3 separate regions of the Homo sapiens genome follow, and all the other regions are linked to region 3. The links come from fine-mapping of genetic effects on gene expression. A gene starts in region 3. Each other region holds a variant in brackets. All regions are shown on one strand. Distances are from middle to middle. Region 1 overlaps NARS2 (asparaginyl-tRNA synthetase 2, mitochondrial). Region 2 has its middle 3.5 kb from the start of INTS4. Region 3 holds the start of AQP11 (aquaporin 11).

Region 1 (4,000 bases), 870 kb after region 3:
CCTTCCCCAATCCATTCTATATGTCAGGTTAATTTTTTCATCTTGCCAGTATCTTAGAATACATACAATGCCTCTCTGTTTTTTACTGGATAAAGCCCAAGCTATCTGTAACACTCCAATCTCTCCATAATTGTTCCTATCTTGTCTAGCCATCTTTATCACCCAATAATTCCTTACTCCATTATTTTTATAGCATAGAATTTTAATTTTTAAAGCAATTTTAAAAACATTTGTTCATCTGATTTCCACAACAAACCTGTGATGATACAAGTGTGTAATTCCCTTTTAAAGTAAACTTAAAGTATAAAATATGTGTAAAAAGTACACAAATAACTAGTATACAGTTCTATAAATTTTCACAAACACACCATGAAGCACCATACGGATCAATAAACTGAACAATAGCAGTACCCCAAAAAAGTCCTCCTAAGGTCTTCTTTTAGTTACTACCCCTACCAAAAGTAACCTCTTTCCTGACCTCTATCACCAGAGATTGACTATGATCCCCTGAGAATACTGAGGACAAGAAAGATCAAGTGGTATATCCAGGAACAAAACCCAAGTCTCCTGGCTCTAAGTCCATAGCTCTTCCTGCCACCCCACACAAACTCTTCACTCCCAGAAAGATCAGGATTCTAATGAAGCTGCCATATATGCTGTATTTCTGCCTTTACAGCCTAGCTTCAATACCTGCTAGCGGTGTGATTTTGCATGAGTGACTATACTGCTGCACTGAGAGGTAGCAGCCTCATCTGTAAGAAAGGGATAAAAGTTAATTATCGGCACATACTCGATAAACATTATTGTTTTCTCTTTTGAATGTTTTAACGTTATGCTTGCCACACGGGTACTCAATAATAGATGTCAATTTGGAACGTCAAAAATTTAATCTTTGTTAATCTTTTCTTCCATTTTCCTCTGTCTACCATGTTTTAAGTAATCTCTAATCTTACAAAGTTAATCTTATTTAGTTAAGTGAGACAATATAAATAATTTCTCAACTCCCTAAATGTCTTTTCCTTGCTACTTTTAATAATGAAGATTCCTCGACACTCTTACTCTACCAAAAGACTTAGGAGGCATTTACGTTCACTTTTATCTCAGTTGCTTTAACCAAACTTGTTCAATTAAGACACACTGGGAAGACTGAAATGGGAGAAACAGTTTGGTAACAAAACCTTAGAAGTCTGTATCACACACATAAAAGGATTTCTCTTCCCTATGTTCCCTAACTCTACAATTCAAAGTATTAATATAAAATATGTCATGATAAAGAATCTCAAAGTATTTTACGACAGACTGAAATGGATACTTTCAATTTTGACAAAAATTTCTAGGATTCTCTTTAGTCCTAGATATGGGGAAAATTGGCAATTCCCTTCATCACTATTTCTGTTGGTTGGTGGCTCGAGCTATTTTGATGCAGGTTGGTTAATTAGCCACAGCTCTGGGAAATTTATTGCACACCCCTTGGCTGAGTATTCTCCTTTCTGAGTTGACTTCACAGTATGTACTTTACTGAATGCCCACTAATGCTGACCTTTCTCTGGTTTGCTAAGTAATACTGATATAATTTTGAAAATTAGAACACTACCTGGTGATTGTGGCATCTCATCAAGGACTGAGGGGCAGTCACTTTTTCCTAATTACACGTGTGTAGAATAAAAGACTATTCTTCTCTGTGAAGCCACTCCCCCAGCTGAACATCTGCCACCTGGCTTTGAGGGACTTACCTGGAGACCAGCCTCAGAGGCATATGGCATTTTGCATATTTGCTTAGATTCATTTTCCCATGATCTGTCCCTTTCAAATGATCAAATATGCTCAGTAATTTATAAGTTAGTCTTATCCATGCATATGAAGAAAAACTTAGGCTACAGGAAATCAGAGAATCTTAGAGAGGTAATACTTTAGAGGTCACTTAATCCAATTCTCTGATTATACAGAGGGAGAAATTGAGGCTGAAAGATCACAGAGACTTGCCTGAGGTGACACAGGTAACTAGTAAGGTATCTAGATTTCAAACCCAGAACCACTCTGCATCCTGTGTACTTTTCAGTACACCACAGCGCATACCTTCATTTCTACTGAGAGGTGGGGAGAAAGGAAGATAAATTATAACTGTAAAAACATACCATTTTACTATTTATTACCCTCTGGCCAAAAGTTACAAGTGTAGATTAGATATTTCCCCATCCTTCTCTTTTGGTTCCCTAAAGAAGGCACCTATGAAACACACCTGTCTTATTTTTTTCAAGACTGCACTGCATCCATTACAGGAACTCTTGCGAACTTACAGCCAGTTATTACAGCCCTACTAAAAGAAACAGAATTTAGTCATCTGGCCCAAAGCTTCTTCCTTCACCAGAAAACAACAAATGAGGGATAGAAGCAGGCACTTCATACAAATGGATTGAAAAGAAATGTACACTGCTAATGTACCA[A/G]TGTTATTCTCTATGGCTAATGTAACAAGTTTAAATAAATTATATTTGAATAGTTTAGCTCTGAGAAGCTATATACTCTAGTACTGCATAAATTATGGAAGTATGTTAAAGTCCCAGTATAACGCCTTTAGGGTGTGAGACCACATTACTAGAGAGACTGTGTCATAATGAAGGTTTCCCAGTACTGTTGAAGGTAAGATACTTGTGAGTGCGATCTATGAGAGAACTACCTTTTAAGGAATCTTATGTTATTATGTAACAACACACACACACACACACACACACACACACAAACACACACACACACATTGTACTTTATCATAAGATTTTATCAAAATTTAAAGTCAGGCACAGATAAATATTGCATGTTCTCATTCATATGTGGGAATAAAACATTTTTTGAGCTCATGGGAAATAGTAGAACAGTGTGTAACGGGGGCTTGGAAGGGTGGGGAGAGGTTGGTTAGTAGATACAAAATTATAGCTAGATAGGAGGAATGAGTGCTGGTATTCTGCAGCAATATAGGGTGAATACGGTTAACTACAATTTATTGTATATTTTCAAAAAGGTGGATGAGAGGATTTTGAATGTTCACAACACAAAGAAATGAAAAATGTTTGAGGTGACGAATATGCTAATTACCCTAATTTGATCAGTATTATATACATACACCAAAATACCATTCTATATTCCATAAATACATACAATTATTACATGTCAACTAAACATGAAAGGGGAAAAATTTTATTAAAATTTAGAAAGTAGGAAGAGACAACTTCATACCTATTGACTACCTACTTCCTAAAACACAGCTATCTACTTTTCTTATATTACTTGATTTAATCCTCACAACTCCATAATATATTATGGTCTCATTTTTACAGATCAGGAAATTAAGACACAAAAAGATTAGGTGGCATATGTAAAATCACATAGTTTATAATACACAGAGGTGGGGTGGGGACTTGAACCCAAGAGTGTCTAACTCTATAGCCACTAGACTTTCCTTTATGCTATGTTGCTACCACTCACAAAATTAAAGATGCTTTTTAGCTTCCCAGCAAATTCACAGCAGATCAACTCACTACTCGTCGACAGTGTGTCTTAAACTTTGTTGGATTTGATTCATTAATCCATTCATCCATCCACCACACGGATACTAGGTGTCCACCACGTCCCAGGCATTACACTAGGAATATACCGATGAATGAAAAAGAAGTTGATATGGTTTTGCTGGGTGTCCCCACCCAAATCTCATCTTGAATTGTACTTCCATAATTCCCACTTGTTGTGGGAGATAACTGAATCATGGGGATATTTTCCCCATACTGTTCTTGTGGTAGTAAGTCTAAGGAGATCTGATGGTGGGTTTTTTTTTTGTTTGTTTGTTTGTTTTTTTGAGATGGAGTCTCGCTCTGTTGCCCCGGCTGGACTGCAGTGGTGTGATCTCAGCTTACTGCAACTCTGCCTACTGGGTTCAAGCAATTCTCCTGTCTCAGCCTCCCGAGCTGGGACTACAGGTGCCTGCCACCATGCCTGGCTACTTTTTGTATTT
Region 2 (4,356 bases), 410 kb after region 3:
AACTGATGGTGACAGTGCAACTGAAATGTGCTGGGTAACGGGAATGAATGTGGTTCAAACAGACCTAATTTCTTCAGAGTGCCTCAGGGAAGGCTTTCCTAAAATTAGAGGAAACTGGGAGTGGTGGCTCACGCCTATAATCCCAGCACTTTGAGAGGCCGAGGCGGGCAGATCACCTAGTTCAGAAGTTTTGAGACCAGCCTGGGCAACATGGCGAAATCTACTTTAAAAATACAAAATTTAGCTGGGCATGATGGTGGCCCACGCCTGAAGTCCCAGCTACTCTGGAGGCTGAGGCGGGAAAATCGCTTGGGCCTGGGATGTGGAGGTTGCAGTGAGCCGAGATCCAGCCACTGCACTCCAGCCTGGGCAACGGAGTGAGACCCTGTCTCCAAAAAAAAAAAAAAAAAAAAAAAAGGCTGGGCGCGGTGGCTCACCCCTATAATCCCAACACTTTGGGAGGCCGAGGCAGGCGGATCACCTGAGGTCGGGAGTTCGAGACCAGCCTGGCCAACATGGTGAAACCCCGTCTCTCCTAAAAATACAAAAACTAGCCGGGCGTCGGGGTGGGTGACTGTAATCCTAGCTACACGGGAGGCTGAAGCAGGAGAATCGTTTGAACCCAGGTGGCAGCGGCTGCAGTGCGCCGAGATCGGGCCTCTGTACTCCAGCCTGAGCAACAGAGCGAGACTCTGTCTCAAGAAAAAAAAAAGAAAAAAAAAGGAAACTATTTCTAATGCAGCTTTAAAAGAATGAGTTTTTCCAGAAACAAAGGCATCCCAGACCGCCGAGATAAGATATACAAATATGTCAAGGGAAATGAAAAACATTTAGCAAACAGTACCTTTAATAAAGCTTAGCTGCTATTATTACCATTATCATATTCTATCAAATCTAAGCTGCCAGCAATTGTAAAATCAATATTTTATTTATTATGTTAAGAAAAGAAATGCTGAAATTAAATACAATGGTTTCTAATTGCTTAGATTTGTTATGTATACTTACAGAAACAGCTCTTTTTAACTTATTTAGACATAGATTTGTATCTTACCTCGCACTGCTGTTTCCATGTCTTCCTGTGCACATAAGAACTTTTTAATGCCAAATTATAGGGTAATCTATTTGGAGATATATTTAATAGTAATTTAAAATAACACATGTAATTCCAAAATTGCACAGAGCTCAGTCGAAGCGATGACACCATGAACTGCTACGACTCAGTATACATATGAGCGATTGGCCAACATCTCCTGATTTCGGAGACATTAAATGTGCATCATAGCATCAATGATACAGAGTATTATCATCGTTATTAAATACATGGCGGCCAGGTGCGGTGGCTCACACCTGTAATCCCAGCACTTTGGAAGACCAAGGTGAGAGGATAGCTTGAGCTCAGGAGTTGGAGACCAGCCTGGGCAACATGGTGAAAACCTATCTCTACCAAAAATACAAAAAATTAGCTGGGCGTGGTGGCATATGCCTGTAGTGCCAGCTACTCGGGAGGCTGAGGTAGGAAGATTGCTTGAGCCCGCTTGGCAGAGATTGCAGTAGCTGAGATCGCACCACTGCACTCCAGCCTGGGTGACAGAATGAGACCCTGTCTCAAAATAATAAATAAATAAATAAATAAATAAATAAATGGCTTTAGGAAGGAGTTTGGTGCATTCCGAAAACCAAAGGAACTTCAGTTCATGTTGAAAGTTAAGTGCATGCAGGGAACAGAAGAAGCAATAAAAATAAAGTTGAGGCCAGGCATGGTGCCTCATGCCTGTAATCCCAGTACTTTGGGAGGTGGTAGGTGGGAGGATCCCTTGAGCTCAGGAGTTCCAGACCAGTCAGTGCAACAGAAAGAGACCCTGTCTCTATATTTTAAAAAAAAAAAATTTATATGGAGTTTATCTCTGTCACCCAGGCTGCAGTGCAGTGGCACAATCGTGGCTCCCTGTAGCCTCGATCTCTGAGGTTCAAGCGATTCTCCTGCCTCAGCCTCATGAGTAGCTGAGATTACAGGCATGCGCCACCACACCCAGCTAATCTTTTTGCATTTTTAGTAGAGACAGGGTCTCACCATGTTGCCGAGGCTGGTCTCAAACTCCTGACCTCAAGTGATCTGCCCACCTCGGCCTCCCAAAGTGCTGGGATTACAGGCATGAGCCACCACGCCTGGCTATATAAATTTTTTTTAAATTATAAATAAATAAATTTGAGAAGTTGGTATAGCCAACTTCTCAATGAGCCAGATTGGTATAGAAACAAGAACACACATTCTTTAATGTTGAATTGAAAAACCGTCTTTATTGTATTGATGCCATTTTCCTTTGACTTTTATTATTACTTATGAAAA[T/C]ACATTAAGGTTCACCTGTGAATGAATCCGTGAGGCTTCAGTCTTCTCTCTCTCTTGCATAACAGCAGCCCAACTTAGTAACTTCTTCTCTACCTGCTGGTTCAGAACAAGAGCCCCAGTGGTCTGGGGACAGTCTCATTACATGTCCAATGTAATGAACAATGACTATGTTCTCTAGGGCAACTGTTCCTCCCTTGGGGAGTAAGTCTTCCAAACCTACTGAGCCCAAGAATTCATAAATGAATTATTAGGTGTAAAAGAGAGAGGAACTGCTCCTATCTCCACCCTTTGATAACCAGACCCATGTTCTAACTGTGGGAGAAGCAGTACTATATTTTAGCTGTTGGTATAAGGCATATGCCACAAACAGCGGCCCAAACTCACAATGTGTTGGCTCTTGACTAGCGCTATAACTGAATCTCCAAAAGGTTATTATTCTGCTTTATTATAGCACCTACATCTGAATGATGGGGTTCCTGGCAAGACCAAGAAGTTTCTTCACTACAATTTTCTCAGCATAAAATAAGCTCCTTAATCAGAAGCAATGTGTGGAGTACTATGATAATGAATGAGGCATCCATAGATGATGGAGCTGGCAGAAATATTGCAGGCAGGGAAGTCAAATCTGAATTTGGAATATGAATCTATTCCTGTGAGGACAAATCACTGCTCCTTCCATGATGGAAAGGATCCAGTGTGTAGTTGAATGATTGCAAAAAAAGCCCCAAATCTCCCCCTCTCGGTATGTATACCCCTTGAAGTGTGACTTTGAAGGTGCTTTTATTAAGAGATGAAATCTATATTATCACCCTTTGAATTTGTGCTGGCCTTGTGACAGGCCAATACAATGTGGTAGAAGTGACAGCGTGCTAATTTTGAGTCTAAGCCTCAAGGTCCACCCACATACAATTTCCCAGACCTTTTGTTTGATTTTGGACCCCCACCATTGCCATGACAGCAAATCCAACCTGGCCTGCTGAAGAGTGAGTGACCACATGGAACACAGGCAAATTGACCCACCTGAAGCCATCTGAGACCGGCTCCGCCCCAGCTAATCCACCAGCTGACTACAGATGTATGCGTGATCTCAGCTGAGACCAGAACTGCCCAATCTGTAGGCCTGTGAGAAATAATTAATAGCTGTAGTCTTAAGTCATTACATTTGGGGGTAGGAAATTGTCACACAGTCAGGCACTCCCTAAGCGCTAAGTTAAGTTGCCACACTTCATCTGGTAAGGAGACAACAAGCCCAAATGATTTAGGCAGTTGATTATTCACAGCATAGCAGGTGGCATGAACTCCAAATTTGTTTCAGTTCTCCTTGCCAACCAAGCACCATGGCAGTTATACAGGTGAATGCCATGCACACAATAGATCTGTAACAGCTGAGAACACTGAGCTTAGGAACTTCCCATTCTTGAAAGAGGACTGCTGAGAAACTTGTCCTCTGGAGGCAGACTTTATTATACTGGTCAGGAAACAAATCTGCCTTCCACCCCATGGGGGACATTTTTTTTTATCACTCTGAAATGTTTCCAGGATTTGAGGACCATATTAGCTTTATTACCCTGGAATATAAGTAAATCTGCTCCCTGCTCCTAAGCAGCTTTGCAAACATCCTCAAACAAAGCTGTTGATGCCATTTGCTCAGAAACACCAGAATTTTTCCCAGCAGTTTGCTAACTGATTTGCAGTGCAATAAACCTCCCACCAAGAAGTGCCTGGTACCCTCTGAGAATAATACCATATCAGGGGCTTAGTGTTGGTCTCTCTCTACTATTGGCAGGTTGGACATACATCAGTGGCTAGATTAGCTTTGGTGAGAGGAAGTCTGTACTGTGCAGCCCATGAATAGCCTCTATCCCTGCCATTATGGCAGGGATTTTTGTTCATGTCTCCATCGAGCAAGCACTGAGCTGCTGGGGAAAGAGGCTGGCTGACATCCACAGGTTGGATCATTGTGCCCTTGATTTTTGAGACCCTCTTCTAGAATGGGTGCCCTCTGGTGG
Region 3 (4,356 bases):
CTCCTGACCTCGTTATCCGCCTGCCTCGGACTCCCAAAGTGCTGCACCTACAATGGGCCACCCCAGGGGACAAGCTGTTGGGACTGGAATGCGGTGGCAAGAGCCGTGCACTCTGGCTGCTGAAACCTGCTGTTTCCACTGTAAGCTACCACTTAGTGAATATTTTCTACGTATTGGGAACTGTACTAAGTGGCTTTCATGTTTTGTTTTTTGTTTGTTTGACTGGTTTGTTGTTGTTGTTGTTGTTGTTGTTGTTGTTTTTGAGACGGAGTTTCGCTCTTGTTGCCCAGGCTGGAGTACAATGGCGCGATCTAGGCTCACCACAACCTCTGCCTCCCGGGTTCAAGCGATTCTCCTGCATCATCCTCCCGAGTAGCTGGGATGACAGGCATGCGCCACCATGCCCGGCTAATTTTGTATTTTTAGTAGAGACGGGGGTTTCTCATGTTGGTCAGGCTAGTCTCGAACTCCCGACCTCCGGTGATCCGCCCGCCTCGGCCTCCCAAAGTGCTGGGATTATAGGCGTGAGCCACCGCGCCCAGCCGCGCCCGGTTTTTGTTGTTGTTTTTGTTTCTAAAAACAGCGTCTCGCTCTGTGGCCCAGGCAGGGGTGCAGTGGCGCGATCTCAGCTCACTGCAGCCTGGAACTCCTGGGGTCAAGCGGTCTTCCCACCTAAGCCTCTCCGTGCTGGGACTCCGGACGCGCTCCACCTCACGCAGCCGTATTCCTGCTTTCAAAGCAGATGGAAGAGGTGCGCCAGGACCCCCAGTTCTTGGAAACAGACCTCTCCAGTTACCTGTTGTTTCCTCTTCACGAAGAGTGCATGTAACAGTAAGACACAACTGTTTCATATTATACGTAAAGAGTTCATGCCAAAGGTTATAGACAGTCACATGCTAAAACTAGGCTACACTTTGAAGAATCACCGCTCAAGTTCTGGAAAAAAGAGGTGACTGTTGAACAACACTGTGAGGGTAATCGATGCCACTGAAATATACACTTAAATTGATTAAAGTGGCGAATTTTATCTGGCATATATTACCACCATTTTTAGAAATGTTTTTTGGCAGGTGAAGAAAAGCAAGGCTCCAGGAGGCCCTGCGCACCGGTCTACGCCCACTAACTCACCCGCCCCCTGCGCCGCGTCTCCCCTCTCAATTTCAGTCGCCCATTGATAAAAACGAGGTGGCTATGTGAGATGGCCTTCAGCGGTCTTTCCAGCTCCACGGTTTTACAGTGTGGAGCGGGGAAAGAAAAACTCTAAGGTCCTCGCTGCAAAGCAACCATCAGAGCTCCGCCGCGCCGTGCCGCTCCTCTCCGCCCCGTGGTCCGGGTGTCACCGCCCGCAGGGGCGCAAGGGCCGCAGCACGCGTGCGCAGTGGGCACCAAGAGCGCTGCGTCGACCGCGCCGCGCCGGCCCTCCGCCGCCGCGCCCGCCTACAAGGCCCTGAGGGAGACTGCGGAGGGTGAGTGCGCGGTGGGCTCGGCTGACCGTTGGCCCTGCGGCCGGCGCCCTAGGCTACCTCCCTTCGCCTCCCCGCGCCTCCCCGCGCCTCCCCGCCTCCCCGCCTCCCCGCCTCCTCGGCTCTGGTTCCAACACCCCAGCGCCAAGCCGGGGAGGCGGGGAGGACTTCTTAAGTGTGCCGCTCGGGAGCCTCCCGCTCGTCCCGCCCCGAGGGGCGTGAGGAGGGGAGGGGCTGCGGACTTCGGACTCGGGCCTGGAGACCGCCTCCTACCCAGAGCCGGAGCCCGCAACCCGCTCAGGCGGCGACGGAGCCATGTCGCCGCTGCTGGGGCTCCGGTCCGAGCTGCAGGACACCTGCACCTCGCTGGGACTGATGCTGTCGGTGGTGCTGCTCATGGGGCTGGCCCGCGTAGTCGCCCGGCAGCAGCTGCACAGGCCGGTGGCCCACGCCTTCGTCCTGGAGTTTCTAGCCACCTTCCAGCTCTGCTGCTGCACCCACGAGCTGCAACTGCTGAGCGAACAGCACCCCGCGCACCCCACCTGGACGCTGACGCTCGTCTACTTCTTCTCGCTTGTGCATGGCCTGACTCTGGTGGGCACGTCCAGCAACCCGTGCGGCGTGATGATGCAGATGATGCTGGGGGGCATGTCCCCCGAGACGGGTGCGGTGAGGCTATTGGCTCAGCTGGTTAGTGCCCTGTGCAGCAGGTACTGCACAAGCGCCTTGTGGAGCTTGGGTCTGACCCAGTATCACGTCAGCGAGAGGAGCTTCGCTTGCAAGAATCCCATCCGAGTCGACTTGCTCAAAGCGGTCATCACAGAGGCCGTCTGCTCCTTTCTCTTCCACAGCGCTCTGCTGCACTTCCAGGAAGTCCGAACCAAGCTTCGTATCCACCTGCTGGCTGCACTCATCACCTTTTTGGTCTATGCAGGTTTGTCATTCTCACCAAATACTTGGCACTTCCAGAGCCTCTATGACATGAGGCTGTAAGTTCTTTACTAAAATACATTTGAAACCGTCTATCCCGCTATGATGTAAATGCTGGTATCCCCGTTATTCTAACCATTTTGCAGCCCGTTCTTAACCAGTAGGGCCGACACGTAGAGCCTTCATGCAGTGCTGCTTTGAACACCCAGAGAAAGGAGCCACCTCTGTGCTGAAACTGAGATACTGTGAGATATTGCCAAGGGTTCAGATATCCTACAAAGGGATTGTTTTAATGGTAGAAAGGAAAGATAACTTATTAACTGCCTCTTTCTTCATGCCAAGGTGGTATAGATCGTTTCGGATACTCTTACTGAAAAATGATCCTGGCTTTACAAAGTTCCTTTCGATTTAAAGCACAAGGCACATGATTGGTTAGTATAAGAGCGGAGGGTAGAAATTTTGTAGTTCCATTTTAGTCCTATAAATGATTTAAAGTCATTTCTTATTTCCTTAATAATTCATTTTGAGTTATGAAATTTCTTATTTCCTTAATAATTCATTTTGAGTTATACATGAACTTTTAAGTGACCTATTAAGAAAAATGTTTAAATGATAACTTGCTTCAAATTAAAGATGCTTTTTAAAATATAACTCTTGAGAAATCTGTTGATTTCTTTTAAACCATTTGTTTACTTTGACAGATCTCAGATGCAGTGGGCAATCTAGTCCTAAGTGGGAGGAGGAAATCCAAAACACAAGTATTTAATGATGAAATGTGTCATTTTAAATGATTACAACAGAATATCTTTATTGGGACTACATCTAAATTATAAAAGACTGTGGAGGCAGAAATAACAACAAAGGAAATTTGTGGTAATAATCTTCTGCCCATTAAAAGTGAAACAATGACTAGAAGCAAACTTCAAGATAAGGACTCCTAAACACGTACTTGACCTTCTAGGGTAAAAATGAAAGCCTTCAGCCGGGCGCGGTGGCTCACGCCTGTAATCCCAGCACTTTGGGAGACCGAGGTGGGTGGATCACCTGAGGTCAGGAGTTTGAGACCAGCCTCGCCAACATGGTGAAACCCCGTCTCTACTAAAAATACAAAAAAAATTTAGCCAGGCATGGTGGTGGGCGCCTGTAATCTCAGCTACTCGGGAATCTGAGGCGGGAGAATTGCTGGAACCCGGGAGGCGGAGGTTGCAGTGAGCTGAGATCGCGCCATTTTACTCCAGCCCAGGCGACAACAGTGAGACTCTGTCTCAAAAAAAAGAAAGAAAGCAAGCCTTCCCAATCAATTTCCCCTTCTTTAGGTCTAGTACCACTTTTTAAGTAGACATAAATGGAAATAAGTGGTATAGAAGAGTGAAGGGGGCCGGGCACGGTGGCTCACACCTGTCATCCCAACACTTTGGGAGGCCAAGGCAGGTGGATCGCTTGAGCCCAGGCGTTCGAGACTAGCCTGGGCAACATAAGAGAAATCCCATCTCTCCAAAAAATACAAAAATTAGCCGGGCGTGCTGGTGCGCACTTGTAGTCCCAACTACTTGGGAGGCTAAGGTGGGAGGATCACCCAAGTCCAGGAGGTTGAGATTGTGGTGAGCTGTGATAGTGCCACTGCACTCCAGCCTGGGTTATAGAGACCCTGTCTGTCTCAAAAGAAAAAAAAAAAGAAAAAGAGAAAAAGAGTGACAAGTACAGGCATATTTGAGGGATTGGTGGGTAGTTGCTTATTTATTGAAGTTTTAGATTTTAGCTAAAGCAGAAACATCCCCTGTATATGAACAGAATTGTCACTGCAAAAAGAGTTATGCTATGGTTTAGCTCTTTATTTCTACAATTAAAAGCAGTAAAAACTTAAAAAAGAATTTTTACATCAATAGAACATTAACTACAGTTGGATTTTTCAATACCTATGTTCCTCTTCCCTCTCTTGATTAACCTGAAGTTGATATTCTTT

What was found.
Region 1: its variant is fine-mapped to the expression of AQP11 in whole blood (TOPMed, PIP above 0.99).
Region 2: its variant is fine-mapped to the expression of AQP11 in whole blood (INTERVAL, PIP above 0.99).

The regions. Positions count from the first base shown.
Region 1 is chr11:78,455,093-78,459,092 of GRCh38, forward strand. The region is part of intron 11 of NARS2 (asparaginyl-tRNA synthetase 2, mitochondrial); the gene reads right to left. Among named protein-coding and RNA genes, the nearest start is that of LINC02728, 27 kb to the left of the region's middle. The variant A/G (reference allele first, on the strand shown) is at 2,445.
Region 2 is chr11:77,995,967-78,000,322 of GRCh38, forward strand. No RefSeq gene overlaps it. Among named protein-coding and RNA genes, the nearest start is that of INTS4, 3.5 kb to the left of the region's middle. RefSeq lists a silencer at 1,844-2,044. The variant T/C (reference allele first, on the strand shown) is at 2,348.
Region 3 is chr11:77,588,215-77,592,570 of GRCh38, forward strand. AQP11 (aquaporin 11) reads left to right here and starts at 1,739. Exons shown (of 3, transcript NM_173039.3): 1 at 1,739-2,397. The coding sequence starts at 1,779. RefSeq lists a silencer at 1,086-1,715.